Regions from separate parts of the Homo sapiens genome. Here region 2 is linked to region 1. Evidence: fine-mapped expression QTL. Tissue or cell type: whole blood. Region 1 holds a variant in brackets; the other region holds the start of a gene. All regions are shown on one strand. Distances are between the middles of the regions.

Evidence for each region. PIP is the estimated chance that this variant, and not a neighbour inherited with it, causes the effect.
Region 2: it holds the start of DAAM2, and the variant in region 1 is fine-mapped to the expression of DAAM2 in whole blood (INTERVAL, PIP above 0.99).

What each region holds. Positions count from the first base shown.
Region 1 is chr6:39,616,795-39,624,900 of GRCh38, reverse strand. All of the region lies in intron 5 of KIF6 (kinesin family member 6), which reads left to right. It also overlaps the pseudogene RNU1-54P. Among named protein-coding and RNA genes, the nearest start is that of KIF6, 100 kb to the left of the region's middle. The variant T/C (reference allele first, on the strand shown) is at 4,559.
Region 2 is chr6:39,788,957-39,797,062 of GRCh38, reverse strand. It overlaps DAAM2 (dishevelled associated activator of morphogenesis 2), which reads right to left and starts at 4,687. Exons shown (of 25, transcript NM_001201427.2): 1 at 4,598-4,687.

The DNA of each region.
Region 1 (8,106 bases):
TTGGAGGGGACACAAACATTTAATCCATATAATAGAAATGTTAGCTTTCACCAACCATTGCCTAATAAGTGATGCGTGGAAGGATGGGAAGAAAGAGTTTCAGTGTTTTCACTCGTATATCTGGAATATAGAAATATATCTGTGATATTTAGAGCTTTTAGTGACATGAATTAATGACAGGAAAAACACTGTCACCTCAATCTATTCCATTTTCCTTGTGCTTTGTGTATGAACAAATGCATACACTTTCTTCAGCCATTAAGAGGTGAAATACACATTCTAAACTGTGTATTAGTATGGATTTGTCTTGCTTTGACATATTGTCCTGTTAGTCTCCACGATTGCATTATGAATTGATTTATTCTGATAGTACATCATTTTCAGAATCCATTCTCAATTTTCAGTATATGAAGCAAAACCTTAGGATTATTTCAAACAGCTTTGAATGATTCTAAGCTTGCTTGATCACTTTATTCTGTTCTTTAGAAAAATGTACAGGGTTTAGAAACACGTCTATTATAGCTCAACTGATAGAGAAAAAAATTATTACAACCTTTTGAGAGTGTTAATACCATGTATACCAACAATTTACCATATTGCAAGAATCTCAATTAGCTCTTTTGAGTGCATTATAAAGAATTTAATCTGTATTCGTCTCTTCAATTAACTTACCATTTAGTTGGAAAATGGGGTATACACATGAAACACCTGAAGAGGCTTCTGCACCACACTCGACTATCCCACTAATAATGTATGTACATGTGAAAAGAGCATACACATGATTTAGAGCTGCAGTCATCTCATAAAAGGAGCCCACTTCAGCCAGTTGTTTCCTGTCACTACCTACTCAGGCCCCTTTTAACACCCCCGTCTCTGCTCCCATAACCCTCAATGGTTTCCTAATTTTACTGACGTATGGCAAGTTCTGACTGAGCCAAGAGCTGACAGTGCTGCTGAGGTGGGAGCAGAGCTGAGCTGGCCTGAGAGAGGGGACACATGGGAAGAGCCTTTAGAATGAAGTCTAGGTGAGGGAAGTGAAGAGATTACGTCAGATGGCTGGAGGAGTTATCTGGGCCAGGTGATGAAGGTCACAAGCAGTATATTAATCTCCCTGCTCTGGAACTTCCGTAGCAGTTAGCCTATGTGTGATTCCACAGTTAATTGTAATTGGCTTTGTGTTTTTACATTGAATTCTAAGGTAGTTGAAGATGTTCTACAAAACGAAAGTTAGTTATTATGAAACAGAGATAAGACTGATGGTATTCAGACCAACTGGCCAGCTATTATCTATTAGTATTTACCTAACTCGATCTAAGAAGCAAGCCCTAGGAATAATCCATTTAGAAAAATAATGGCTAAATAGATCTCTTTTACAATAGCAAAAGAAGGTAAAATGCTCAGGAAATGTTCGAGAACTTTATGAACAAGATAGTACATTTTTCTGTGAAAGTAAAAGAAGACTTGAAAATAGATAGTTATTAATCTGTTTCTGAGTGTGCAATAGGAATACCTTAAAGGGGTGTTCTCATATTAATGAGTAGGTTCAATGAAATTCCAAACAAAATCACAGAGGCTTTAAAAAACATATATATGATTCCAAAGTTTATCTGAAAGGATAGACAACCAAGAAGAACAAAAGTTTCAAAAAGTAGAGAAGTGAGAGAAAATTAATGACACTATCTATTCAAATTAAGTAAAAGTTCTAATAATGAAATCATGTTATACTACTTCTAAATTAAACAGATGAAGAAAAGCAAACAGATTAAACCAGAATCATATTCTATACAATGTAATCATTTAATGTAGGTAGAGGGAAGAATTCTTCAGTCAACAGTATTGGACATTTGTGTTAGTAAATTAACAACTGCAGGTAATAGCAGCCTAACTTCCAATGGCTTAACCAAATAGTCTGTTCCTTGCCACACCCCAAGCCTCACCTCTCCCACACCACCGCACCTTAAAGATTCTAAAAATAGGCAGGGAGGGCTGCTGTGGAAGCTCCAGGATGCCTTCAGGGCTTCCTTCCATCATTCTGCACAGCCATTCTTAGTGGGCAGCTTTAGTCATCATGCAAAATGGCTGCCTCACCTCCAGCATCTCGTGCACATTTCTGGAAGGAAACAGGCACCTGCTGCCTGAGGCTGCTCATGTCCAGGAAGCTCCATCCAATGACTTTCACTTATTTGTCACTGACCAGAATTTTGTGATATGGGCAGCCTTAGTTGCAAGAGAATCTGGGAAAGTCTAGTGTCTTTAAATAATTCCCTGAACAAAATCAAAGCCTAATAGTTAGGGAGAAGGGGAGGACAGATCCCATACAGGCAAACTGCATCATGAGCCACACAATCATTGATGGAGAGGAAAAATCCATTTAGAGCCCTTATTTCATTCCATCTACTCATATCCCAAAAGAGTACAAGAAAAGTCAATTTTTATATACTCTGTTGATTTGGAAGGACTTTAAGCTTAAAAAGTACAGAAATAAAAGAAAAGATTGATACATTATAAGAATTTAAACTTTTATGTGTTAAAACAAACAAAATTTCTAATACATCAAAGTTAAAAAGCAAGCACATATAAAATTTGCCTAATAAATATAAGAAACAAAATATTTTATATATAAAGAGCTCATACATTTAAGTACCCCAAATAAGTAGACAAAAGACAAAACAATATAACGGTTAAAAAACAGTTGGAAATAGGTTCAATTTCTTTGTTTCTTTTTTTTTTTTTGAGCTGGATTTTCGCTTTTGTTGCCCAGGCTGGAGTGCAGTGGTGTGATCTTGGCTCACTGCAACCTCCGCCTTCTGGGTTCAAGCCATTCTCCTGCCTCAGCCTCCTGAGTAGCTGGGATTACAGGTGCCCGCCGCCCCACCCGTCTAATTTTTGGAATTTTTAATAGAGATGGGGTTTCACCATGTTGGCCAGGCTGGTCTTGAACTCCTGACCTCAGGTGATCCACCCACCTCGGCTTCCCAAAGAGCTTGGATTACAGGCATGAGCCACCACGCCTGGCTGAAATAGGTTCAATTTCATTAACCATTCAAAGAATGTAAATTAAACAGAACATTTTAACCTAAAATATTAGCAAAAATTTAAAAACTAATGTTCAGTGTTATTAAAATAATAGTGAAACAGTCCCTCTCATACAGTAGGAATGTAAATCAGTATAACATTTTTGGAAAGCATTTTACTGCCTACCTTCAAGGAAGTTGCTATTTATTGGATTTTAATGTGCAACATACACTACTAAGCACATTTGTTCATTCATCCAATGTATTATTGTGCATCAAACATAAACAGGTGTCCTTTTAGGCCTGGGGCACAGCGATGAACAAGGAACTTAAATACATGATTTTTTTCTCAACAGTCCATTGTAGAGGTGATATTGTCCTCAGTTTATAGAGGAGACAGAGATGCAACGAGAGTTCCTAAGATGCCAAAGACTTACTGCTAGCACATGGCGGGAGGCCAGGATCTCAGCCCAGGTTTGTCCATTCCACAGAGGGTGCTATAGGCTTCCCAGGTATGATGAGAGCCTTAAAGCTGTTCATAACTTTTGATCTTGTAACGTCACCCCCAGAAATCATCCCTAAGGAGAAAATATGAATTATTTCAAAAGCTTCAGGAACAGATATATATTGATACAGTTAAAGATATATGTGTACGTGTGTGTGTGTGTGTGTGTGTGTGTGTGTGTGTGTCTATCTTACGGTGTTATTTAAAACAGCTTTAAATTGGAAACAACAAATTCTCATAAAGGAATGGTTAAAATATTTCATTAATACATCCTAACCCTAAAATATTGTGTAACTATTAAAAAAATGTTGTAGGCTGGGTGCGGTGGCTCACACCTGTAATCCCAGCACTTTGAGCGGCCAGGGTGGGCAAATCACCTAAGGTCAGGAGTTCAAGACCAGCCTGGCTAACATGGCAAAACCCTGTCTCTACTAAAAATATAAAAATTAGCTGGGTGCAATGGTGAGCACCTGTAATCTCAGCTACTTGGGAGACTGAGGCAGGAGAATCGCTTGAACCCAGGAGGTGGAGGTTGCAGTGAGCCAAGATCGTGCCACTGCACTTCAGCCTGGGCAACAGTGGAAGACTCTGCCTCAAAATAAATAAATAAATAAATAAATAAATAAATAAAATGTTGTTAAGGGGTGATCAAAAGAGAGTAACATGCATACATTTATAATTTTATGACAAATCTGCAAAGTGTGTGTAAGAAAATTAAGGCAATATATTAACATACCACATTGTCCTTGTGATGAGGCTCTGCTTTCTTGGTTCTTTCTACTTTCATACTTTTTCACAAGAAGCATGTATTATGCTTATAGTTGGAAAAATAATAAACTGAATGTTAAAATGAAAATAAAAGTAAATAAATTCAGAACTTTTAAAATGTAGTATCATAAACTAAGAGGTGTATAAAGCTATTTACCTGGCAGAGGAAATGCTATGGTTTTCCAGAATTACAAATCCATTGCCTCTAGATGTATCTATTCTTATAGGTTTCCCAAATGTGGAAAACTTGAGTACATAATTTGTGGTACTA[T/C]CACTATAAAATCTGAATAAGAAAGCAAGTATTAGTAAAAATGGGAGAAAACTTCCTTTGAAAAAAAGTTGGTAGCTCTAAAGAAAACAAATTTTAGTGCACGGCTGTATAATTACTATATGGAATTAGGCCAAACAAGACATTTCATTAAGTGGTGGGTTATTTGTAAGCCTGGAGCATCAGAAGGAACATGATATGGCTGAATGTTTTTAGAAATTAGCAAGGAATACTAGCGTAACAAGCACAGTTTTTTGATTATCTAAAATATTCACTTTTGGAAAAGCATGCAAATGATGATGTCTGGCGGGCAATAGATAAGTGTATGATAAACCATGTTTCAATACAGTAGATTTGGGCGCCATTGATGGTTGTGAAGTGATATTGTTAGGGCATGGAATAGTTTGGTTAGATTAACATAATACAGAAAGATATTCTTATCAAGTTATTAGCAATCTAAAACTTTATTATATTTGGGTATTATTTTGAAAAAAGACAATGGAAATAACATAATGTTTCGTATTTATGCTCAATCTTAGTGAAATGATTAAATTATAGTGACTAATAAATAAATGAGTGCAATCACCCCTGAGAAAGCGTTGGTTCTCCTACACATTAATTGCACCTAGTATGGTTCTATCTTTGCTGATCATAGATCATTCTTGTTTGGGCTTCACATGTCCATAGCAGTGGCCAACAGCTTCCAGTTATGTCCTGAGTCCCTTTGGTGACGTTCATTTTCATGGCATATTGAAGCATACGAGCACAGTAAGCAGCAGACACTTCTGGAGAGTGTGCAGCTGGTTCCTCATTGTCACTATGCATCCTTGAACCCTGTTGGTTACATTACATTAAATGACTTTATCCATTGGTTATTTCAATTCTGTTCCTCTTCAGACAGGGAATAAATCATTTACAGATTGCCAGCACTTCTGAAATGGCAGGCTTATGGTAGCAGGATAACCTTAGGAGGTTGGTTAAGATCTTTGGGAATTCAGACTTACAAGAGTCCAAGTCTATTAACATTATTATTTAGCAATAAAGGTAAATTAGAAATAAAAATGATAATATTTAGAGGAGATATTTGCCAGTTTGAAATAAAAGAAATTCATGTGGATAGCAAAAGAAAAATTTATCACAAGAATTACTCAGAATATTTTGCAGTGCTGAGTTTGGACTTCTTCTGATAAAGTATTTTATTTGTTAGTGTTTTCACTTTTATAAAAGTTAGAACTTGGTGTTGTAGGTTGCAGATTATATTAACTAACTTAGTTTCTAAAACGTGTTAACAGAAAAAGGAAACTCTGTAAAATATTTTAAAGAGATTTATTTTGAGCCAATAAGAATAAAATAAAAAGAGGTTTATTTTGAGCAATCTGGTTACAGATTGGTTTTGTGCATTTCAGAAAGACAGGAATTATAAAATCATAAATCAACAGATGAAAGGCATACATTGGTTCAGTTTGAAAAGGTAGACCGTCTCAAAGGAGGGACTTAGAAGTCAGAGTTGGGTTTTAGGGATTCTTTGGTTGGCAATTGGTTGAAAGAGTTAAGCTTTGTCTAATGACTTGAAGTCAGTACAAAGGAATGCTTAAGTTGAGACTGGGGACGTCTGTTATCTGTGCTGTGATGCTACATCACAGTCAGGTTGGAAAACAAGCCACATTATATTGGATTAATTTTTAAAAACCTTTTAATTAGATTTTGTGATTTGTAGGGTGTGACTTAACACTAGTCTGGCATGGCCTTGGGTCTTGTTTATAATTTGGTGTCTTATTGCCACAAAAAGTTTGTTCTGTGAGTCTTATGATCTCTGTTTTAACATTAATGCTAGTCAGTTGTGCCGAAACTCCAAAAGGGAGGGCGCATAACGAAGCGTGTCCAACCTTCTTTCCTATCATGGCTGGGAATTCAGTTTGTCAGGTTTTCTGGGGTCCCCGTGGCCAATAGGGGGTCCATTCAGTTGGATGAGGGGCTTAGGATTTTATTTTTAGTTTACGAATGTCATGTGATCAGCTATATTCTTCATTGTCAGTGAAAAGATATGATGTTAGATAAAACTACAAAGAAAAGATACGGTTTTCAAGCTACTAGAAAGAGCTTTTGAAATATCTCAGTAATGGACAAAACGTCCATTGCTTTTAGCCCATTTTGTCTAGGTCAACACTAACACAAAAATATATTGCAGGTTCATGAATCTTTCCCAAGAAACATATTTCAAGTATTTATATTTTATAACCAAAGAAACCTTTTAGAAAGTTGTAATCAATCTAAGAAAATCTACCTTTGAAATTGTTTAAATGCAGAAAGGAGGGGTCACCTTACATACTTTTCCTAAAACTTTACATCTCTGCTTTTCCCTAAACCTTCACCATAAAGAGCTTCTGAGAAAATGTGTTGGGGAGAAACAAAAAGGATATTGAGAACTGACAAACAAGTGAATGTTCTCTTTATTTAAGTGACTTGTGTTGGGACTATGTTTACAACATGTGAAACATATCTAGTTATTTAGAAGAGCCTGGTGCACCCCCACCCATTGTCATGAGGCCCACCTGCTCTTGACATTGCTCTAGGTCAGGGTGTCTAGACGGAATGGCCTCTAGTCTGTATGACCTCAAGTCACCTTTATGTCACTTATTAAAAGGCACCTCTGCCATCTATTGGAAAATTGTTGCAGTATGCTGATTTTGTTAGGAGGCTCTTCATTGCCTTATGACAGACATTTGTCGTGATAACTATACAAACCCATGATGTGAATAGCACCCCCTCAGACATGGCGCCATTGCATAGTGCATGACCTATACCATCATAGGGGACATTTGCAAATAGATAAAAAATAGAAATCACCATGGCAACACTTATATATAACATGAACGTTAGAAACCATGTTCCTTGCAGTAATGGCTGGGAAGTTCCTTTTCAGCAAGTTGATGGTACTGAAATGTGGAGGTAGGGTGTGGGGTGGAGGATTCTTTCATTGATAGCTTCCATTATTGAGAACAAGAGCCTGCCTATTGCTCTTTATATGTGCTTCAGTCAGTTAAAAAGAGTCTACAAATTCCAACTACTTAGCCAAATGGAAAAGATTCTCTGTTTACAGAGAAAACACAAAGCTTGCTTCTTCCCCATCATTAAGCAGGCTGAGTACACTTAGCAGAACTTTTCCACTTAGGTATCCAAGTTAAGGCTATCAGTGACTTTTCTTGAAATCTAAATATTTTAGAAACATTTTGTAGGGAAAGCTGTTCACAGGCCTGTTAAAAAAAATCAAATAAATAGTTTGGGGGTTTCCATCTTGGAATTAGAATGTTTATTTAAGAAACTCTAATAAAGCCCTCTTTCAAGCCCATGAAAATTACAGTCAGAACCAAGTGGTAGATTAAGGATTCAGGAAATAGCTATTGATTTGTGAGGGACAGAGGGAAAGAAAGGGCCAGGAAAGGAAGGAACTTGATGAGAAACTTTTTGTAATGGTCCTTATTTCCTTCAACTTTGAAAAACCATTTCACTGGCAGTAGAATTTAAAACACTCTCATTCTGCAACTACCTCT
Region 2 (8,106 bases), 170 kb before region 1:
TCTCCAGGCTGAGATATCTGACCTCCAAGCACAGTTGTTAATCCTTGAATAAGTGGCTTATTTACTTTGACCTGTGGACAAATGTCTAAACCCATGTATTTTCACGGACTTAGAACTGGAGAGGGGAATGGCATTAACATTTTACTGAGCAGTTTGCTAGCTTCTTCCCTTATATCATTCCATTTCATTTTCAGAACAACCCTGGGGAATGAGAATAGTTATTGTTCTCATTTAACAGATAAAGAAGACTCAGAGAGGTTAGCAAGCTTGTGACCTGGTGGTGCCAGAACTCAAATCTCTGTCTGCTTGATTCTAAAGCTCTTCCTTGGAACCATAGGATGTACCACAAATAATTCAGCTCCTCTTTGGCCAGGATTGAAAGAGACATCAAACTGCCTAAAGTTCATTTTTTTTTTACAGGTTTTTTTTTTTTTTTTTTTTTTGGAGGGGGACCCCAGAAAGAAACCCATAACACCTATTAATAACCATAGTCTGATAAGTCTTGGCCAGTGCTAGCATAACGCTGCACAGGTTCCAAGAACAGGCACTTACTTCCTCCCCCCACAGCATCTTGACTGTGCAGTTTTAGAACCTCATAATGAAACAAAAAACAAACCAAAAAATGTGGAGAGAGTTGGAGAAATAGATGCTGCCAAGAGTGAGGAATTCACTGACCCCCGCTCTGGGCCATCTCAAGAGAAGTTGACCACTGGTTGAGCCTCTTAAAAGCTTAAAAGTCATCCCAGGCCATGGTTAAAGAGAGAGCTTGAACAAAACAAAAACAAATGTGATCTTCAAAATCTTAAATGTCAACTTGAAGGATAACTTACAAGCTTTGAGATGGGCCAAGAGGACCTGCAGCTGCTCTCTAACATCAGATGTTCCTTTGTTCCTTTGGAGTAGTCACTCCCTTGGATAATGTATCAATCAGGGTTCAGGGGGCAGCCTCCCACCCCATACCCACTGGAGATGTTTGCAATGACTAAAGCTTTCATTCTTTACAACCCATCAGATTCCCCCATTACTCTGACCTGAGCACCCTTGACAAGGAGTGGCTGCCTACCCGCTCTCTGACTCAGGCTTGTCCTTCAAGATCCAATTGGTCCTTGACCCTCCTGCCCTACCCCCACCTCCCTACCTTTCCCCTCCCCACCATACTTATACAACCTGCTCTTCTGTCCTTCTCCCTCCCTAAAGAGCACAAACACAAGAGTGATTTCTAGGCCAGACATCCAGGATCCCTGGTTTCTTCTCCCACACTTCAGGATAATGGACCAGGGATGCTCATGGAATATCTTCATTGGTCACCTTTTCTAGAGGAAGGAAGTAAGGATGATCAGAGCCCTAGAAACTCCACCCACTAGCCTTCAATCATGGAAAATATGTAGCTAGATTTGGGGAGAGGTTCTTTCCAAGCAATACTGGCTTGTGATGGCTGAAAAACTGAAAAATAAAAATACAGCACTCCCTTTATGAAGGGTCTTATAACATTCTGAGCTCTGTTCTTAGTTCTTGTGCATAAATGTTTTCATAATGACCTGGGGAGGGAAATACTATCCTTATTTTACAGATGAGGAAGCTGAAGCTCAGAAGGAATAAGTCATGTAGCCCAGGTTACTAATTCGTATTTAGGTCACAGTTCTCTCTCTCCAGGCAGCTGATCAGAAATCTGCACTCTTTCCATTGTTGTCGGGCTGCCTCTGAAGTCTAGGGCTGAATGACACAGGATCCTTGACAGAGTCTCTGGCTGTTGAGATCTAGAGGGTCATCCGCTATCAAAGCCAAGGATATCCTTCAACTTGTTCTTTCTGCCAGCTGTGTTTGCCCTCTGGACCTTCAAGGATGTCTTGGAATGCATCCCATCTACTTAATCTAATCTCAAAGATGACCAAAGAGCTGGCCAGAAGATTGAACTGATAGAATGAGCCATGAGAAGGCTTCAATGTCAGCCTAGGCATCCATGGCCTGGGAATTCATCCCGGCCATAGTGAAATGTCTCCTAGTACAAGCCCAGAAGCATCAGGACTCCACTGATCCCACATGCAGCACTCCCAGAAACCCCACATGTAGAAAGAGTTGAAAACCCAGTTCTTGCCCCTCACCTGTCCCTGAGGAGTTGTATGCTGGGATAAGAGTATTTCTGGGAATCCTGTTCCGAGGGGTCCCTTCTGTCCCTGGGTAGTCTTCTATGTTTAAATAATGGAAATGAATGAGAACATTTAAACTTGTTACTTCCATTGGCTCTAGTAAAATCAAATAAGAAAGCCTCATCTTTCATTATCTCTATGCTTTCTCTACTGCCTGTACTTACCCTTTATCTTCATTCTTTACACCTGGATCCAAGGCTCTTTAGTAATGGGGAGTTTAATCTGTTTTGCATCAAAAACTTTGGAGACAGTCGGGAAAGAAGACTGGGGAGAGAACATGTTCTCACAGCAAGCAGTAGTATTTCAACTTCCTCCACGCTCACCAAAAACAAAATCATTTACAGGCCTTCCTATTGGTCTTGCCTGCACAGCCTCCGCCTTCTTGAGCCCCTGACTCTCTAAGTTCTAATGCCCAGGAGAATGTTCTCTCCTCTTTTTGTCCTGATGGGGGCACGAGTATTCCCTCAGCATCCGAGGCGCTGGAGGAAAAGCTCTGAAAACTCAGCTGGGAGTTAGGAGCCAGAGTTTGCAACTACCAGGGAGCAAGACAATAATAGCACAGTTGTTTGCATAAAGGAAGAAATGGGGGTTAGATGGAGTTCCCAGCACAGATGAAGAAATAGACCATTTATCCTCCCATGTCTAAGGCCATGGCCATCACCACACAGTCATGTATGTGTAAAAACACATAGGCATGTGCATCTCATGGGGACCAGTCACTCCTGTTTACATGCACCCTTGTTTACATTGCCTATGGGATGATTTCCTCCTCCTTCATTACACTTCAGTTGACAACGTACTCCTGAAGTTAAATGAGTCTGTTTCTGACATTGCTGCCTGCTCCATCTTTTATGGAGCTTCCCTGGGGTTCAATTTATATAATTTCTAAAATCCTTCCTGAATCTTAACTTCCTGTGGGTCTGTTTTTACATCCAGATTTCCTCCCTGTCCCTTCATTTTCTCATTTTTCTAGGACAGAGGGAGAGTCCAGTAATCTTCCTCCCACCCAGACATTGTAGGTTGGCTCTACTGCAAAATACAAAACCAGAGACCTGGCTAGCTCAAAGCTGAAAATTCAGTCTGTCTGTGGTCACTCGTTTGTGGAACCCAGCTATTGACAGGCAGTGCCTGGCACTGTGCTACTCAGGGATGATGGATCGATACAGCCTCACTGCTGCTTTTTTCCCCTACTCTCCGTGGAGCACACTTTCCGCCCTAGGCCCTAGGGAAAATCCATCCCCCGCTTCAGCTGGCTTTGCAAAGAAACTCAGGAAACTAACACCAAACTCAGAAGGGGGAAAACACAAGACTTTGAACTTTTTAAAGATGGGAAGCTGCTTTCATTCCCACGTGGGCATCAAGGGAAAACCTATGGGGACTCTTTTCCGGAGAGGTGTGATTTTCCTCTAACCCTCCGAGAAACGTTCCAAATCCACTCCAAAACTGTGGAGAAGTGGCCGAGGCAGAGAGAGAAGAGTTAAATCAAGCCCAGATCTCAGCAATCTGTGTTCAATTTTGATAAAAATCTCCCTCTCCCCCACCGCCCCCCTTCCTCCACCCCACAGCTCAGACACGTCTCTTTATGTTAGGAGCTTGCATCTTGTTTGGGGCACCACACGCGGCACTCCTGGAGAACCTGGCACGTACCTCACCGTGGCCATGTGGCAGAACCAACCATCCCACTCCCAAGCTACGGCTGGACACAGGGCCACAGCGTCCTGGCCATCACCACCACCTCCCCCTCTTCCTTCTCATCCTCTTCACAAAATTACCTGCCGCCAGACCAAGTCCCTCATTCCCCGGTTAAGTCAGAGTCCCGACGCCTGGTAAAGTCAGGGCATGAGGTTGGTTTGCGACCGCAGGTGCTGAGAGCCCCAGAGTCCGGGGACCCCTTTCCTGAGATGCTCCTTCCCCCGCCCAGGGTCCCACTGCCACTGAGAACAAGAACCTTACGGCTGCCCTGCCCACTGGCCAGAGGCCAGGCCTGCAAGTGGGAGCTGGGGGCTTGTGAAGACTTCAGCCCAGCCAAGTGAAGGTTCAAGCCGAACCCGGAAAAGCCACCACCAAAAAGTTGTCAGTTTTGCGGGGTATCTTCTGTGTTTGTCCACTTGTGACAACCAGGGGTCAGGTTTCAAAGCCGCAAAAAACATTTTTAAAAAGTTTTCCAAAGACATTTCCTATGTCCAGATGTGCCAGTACAGACACACGCAATCACACTCATACACACACACAACTCACACACACACAGGCCCTGGGAGCCCACTCCGGGGTCGGCGGCTCCTGCAAACACTTTGGAGAAACAAAACCGCCAGCCTGCGGAGCTGCTGCCTCCCCAAGCCCCGCGGGGCATGCTAAAGAAAGCAGAGGGAGAGAAGTGTGGGAGCCCAGCGGAGAGGGCTCCCCGCGGCCCGGGCCCCAAGACGGGGAGCGCCAGGGCCGGCCGCACTTACTCCGAGGACCCCAGGGCGCCCGCGCTCCCGCAGCCCGAGGTACGGCGCCGCCGCCCGCGCTCCGCTCGCTGCTGCGTGCTCCGCGCTATCCCCGGGAAGCCGCGGCTGCCGCCCCTCCAGGCCCGGCCTCGCGCCCGTCCGCCCGCCCCGCTCTGACGTCAGGCGTCTTGGAGCGGGATATTTATGGCAAGGTTACTCTGAATTTTCCCTAGGTAGACTTCTGATTGCAGTTTCTTGGGATTTGTAATTTTCACACTTTCAGACCGAACGCAGGCGGGGGGAGAGCGCCACCGGCAGGGCGAGGCGTACAATGAGGGTAGCTGTTCCCCACTTTGGCAGGGAGCGTTCTCAGGGCCCCTTCTGTTTTGGAAACATGGAAGGGTCAAAGAGGCAAAAGTGGCCACCTGGGCAGCGGGTTTCTCCCCGGCTCCTCCTCTGGGCTACGGGCAAATGGCCTGGTCTGAGGCCGGCTCGGAGGTGAAGGTCCCGGTGCCAAGGAATCCCCTGTCCCTCCCCAAAGTGTCCCTGCACTGGACAGTGTGTCCCAAGGGGTGCTGGGCAAGACAGGAGCGAAATCAGGCACAACAGAACAGCTAATTAGGAGTCCTGGTCCACGCCCTAACAACTTTTCCATTTCTTTTTTGGGAGTGTATATATATTTTTTTAAGTTTATTTTTATTAAATTATGTTCCACACTCCCTGCCTCTGTATAGCTTTTCCAATTCAGTGCCAGTCAATTCATCTTACTTCATTGCTTGTATGCATAGTTTGAGCAGTTTACAATAGCTCTTATTCATACTTTTAAAATTTCCTTTTAGTTTTTTTTTTTCTTTTTTTTTTAAATGTGATTGTGGTCTGTCTCCTTGACTGAACTAGAGATTGCTTTGGTCAAGAGCAATTGTCCTCTCTGGGATTGGCAACACCCTCACGGGGAGTATTTGATCTTCTCTGTTTCCTATTTTCCCCAGCTCCCTCTGCAAGCAAATGGTGCCCCCACTGGGTGATGACCTGTATACAGTTTTCTGGGTGTTCAGTGGTTGTTCTGTGTTAGTGGTTGTCTGTTTCTCCACCTCACCAAAGGGGCTTAGGGAAATGGCTTGGTTTAAGGGCCACCCTTCCAGAGAAAAAAAGAGAATGTAATGCATGATCTTCCAGAGGAAAAAAAAAAAAAAAAGAGAATGTAATGTGTTATCCTTCATGGTTCCCAAGGATTGGAGAATGAAATGAACTTAAAATGATACACGTGAGATGCAAAATACTTATATGGTTAGACAACATAAGTGTTTAGGTATTCATCTCACCATGAATGGGAGGGGGCACGGATAATTGCAAATCATCATTAAAACACAACTATAGTGAACTTTCCATTAGCCCAAACTGGTAGAGGCGGGGTTGTGTTTTAACCACAGTTACAGTGCAGCAGGGACTCAAGGACTTGGAATGTGTTTACCTCTTTGGCAGCAGCTGGTTAGAGCTGATTGCCAGAAGGAGCTGTCTTAGGGCTGGGCCTCTCGGTAGAGGCCACGCTGTTTTGACCCAAGCCACCGAGGGCCCTGCAGCAGGGAGCTGCTGTTTGGTCACTGTGGGATTGCTCTCCCTGGCATAATACCCCACTTTTACCTCCTTCCATTCCCTCTCTCATATCAAGGCTCCACTGGCAAGGTGAGCTCTGTTCTTCAGCAGACCCTGCAAATAGGTTTCCAGAAGCCATTGACAAACCCATTCTCCCTTGCCTTTCTCAACTAAAGAAGTTAGAAATCTACAATATTCACCATCCCAGACTCCCTGGTAGCTCACAATTGCTATGAGACCAAGTTCTGACCAGTGAGATTGTAATACAGAAGACAGAGGATGCCTTCCACAAACTCTCTTTAAGAGAAGATCAGATTTGGCCAGGCGCGGTGGCTCACGCCTGTATTCCCAGCACTTTGGGAGACCGAGGCGGGCGGACCACGAGGTCAGGAGATCGAGACCATCCTGGCTAACACGGTTAAACCCCGTCTCCACTAAAAAATACAAAAAATTAGCCAGGCGTGGTGGTGGGCGCCTGTAGTCCCAGCTACTTCGGAGGCTGAGGCAGGAGAATGGCGTGAACCTAGGAGGCGGAGCTTGCAGTGAGCCGAGATTGCGCCACTGCACTCCAGCCTGGGCGACAGAGCGAGACTCCGTCTCAAAAAAATAAATAAATAAATAAATAAATAAATAAATAAATAAATAAATAAAAACACAAAAAAAGATAGGGCCAGAGACTCAGAGGTGGCAGGTTGGGGACATCATGAGGACAGAAACAGGGGAAGTGAGGCTGAGGAGCAAGCATTCTAGGTCTGGGAGAGGGGAGTCTCTCCATCCTTGCCCAAGTGTTTTGGAGGCAGGGTCTCTCTCTGTCACCTAGGCTGGAGTGCAGTGGCACGATGATAGCTCACTACAGCTTCGAACTCCTGGGCTCAAGGGATTTTCCCACCTCAGCCTTCCCAGTAGCTGGGACTACAGGTGCATGCCACTAGGCCCTGCTAACCTTTTTTTTTTTTTTTTTTTTTTTTTTTTTTGTAGCGATGTGGTCTTGCTATGTTTCCCAAGCTAATCTCAAATTCCTGGTCTCAAGCAATTCTCTCAACTCGAGAGGCCGAAGCGCTGGGATTACAGGTGTGAGCCATTGCGCCTGGCCCCCAAGCATTCTTAATTGGGTTCTATTGGGATGAGGAGCAAGTGAAATTCATAAAATACGTGGCTGTCAGTGCTGAGGAGCTGTTTTTGAGGTTGGCAAGCCCTGAAGAGTCCATGAAGTAGTAGGGCCCACTCGAAGATCATCTGATTCACTCCCTACCCCCAGCCCTATCACTCACAGGGTCCTAATGTGGGAGTCTCTCCTATTCTCAAGATTCCCAAGAAAGGGGTTTCATCCTTCTTCACCTGCATATTCTAGGAATGTTCCCGGAACATACAGTGAGGCCCTCTGTAGCACACTACTCATCTGGAAAATTGTACCTGCTTGATGAAAGATTCTCAAATAGCACATTATGGTTGACCTGGCTTCCAAAGCTCACTATATACTTCCAAGGCCCAGCCTATCATGATAAGAAGCAGGCTTCACAAAAGTCACTTGCTCACTCTCCAGGGGTAGAGATCCTAGTCTAGTACAGCATGGACCACAATAGCACTCCATAAAGACTTTCTGAAGAATAAATGAAGGCCCCATGAATATGTCATCTAATCAATATGTGACTCTCCGCAAATAACATATACCTTTCTCTGATTTACTATTGTGGACTATAGCAAGTGTTTGAACCAAAGACCTTGGTTAAATCCCAGCCCTGCCTCTCACTGCTGTGTGACCTCAGCATGGCAGGAAACTTTCTCAAGCATAGTTTTTGTGATGGTTAACTTCATGTGTCAACTTGGCTGTGCCACAGTGCCCAGATAGTTGATCAAGCATTATTCTGGATACTTCTGTGAAGGTGGTTTTGGATGAGATTAATATTTAAATTGGTGGACTTTGAGTAAAGCTGAGT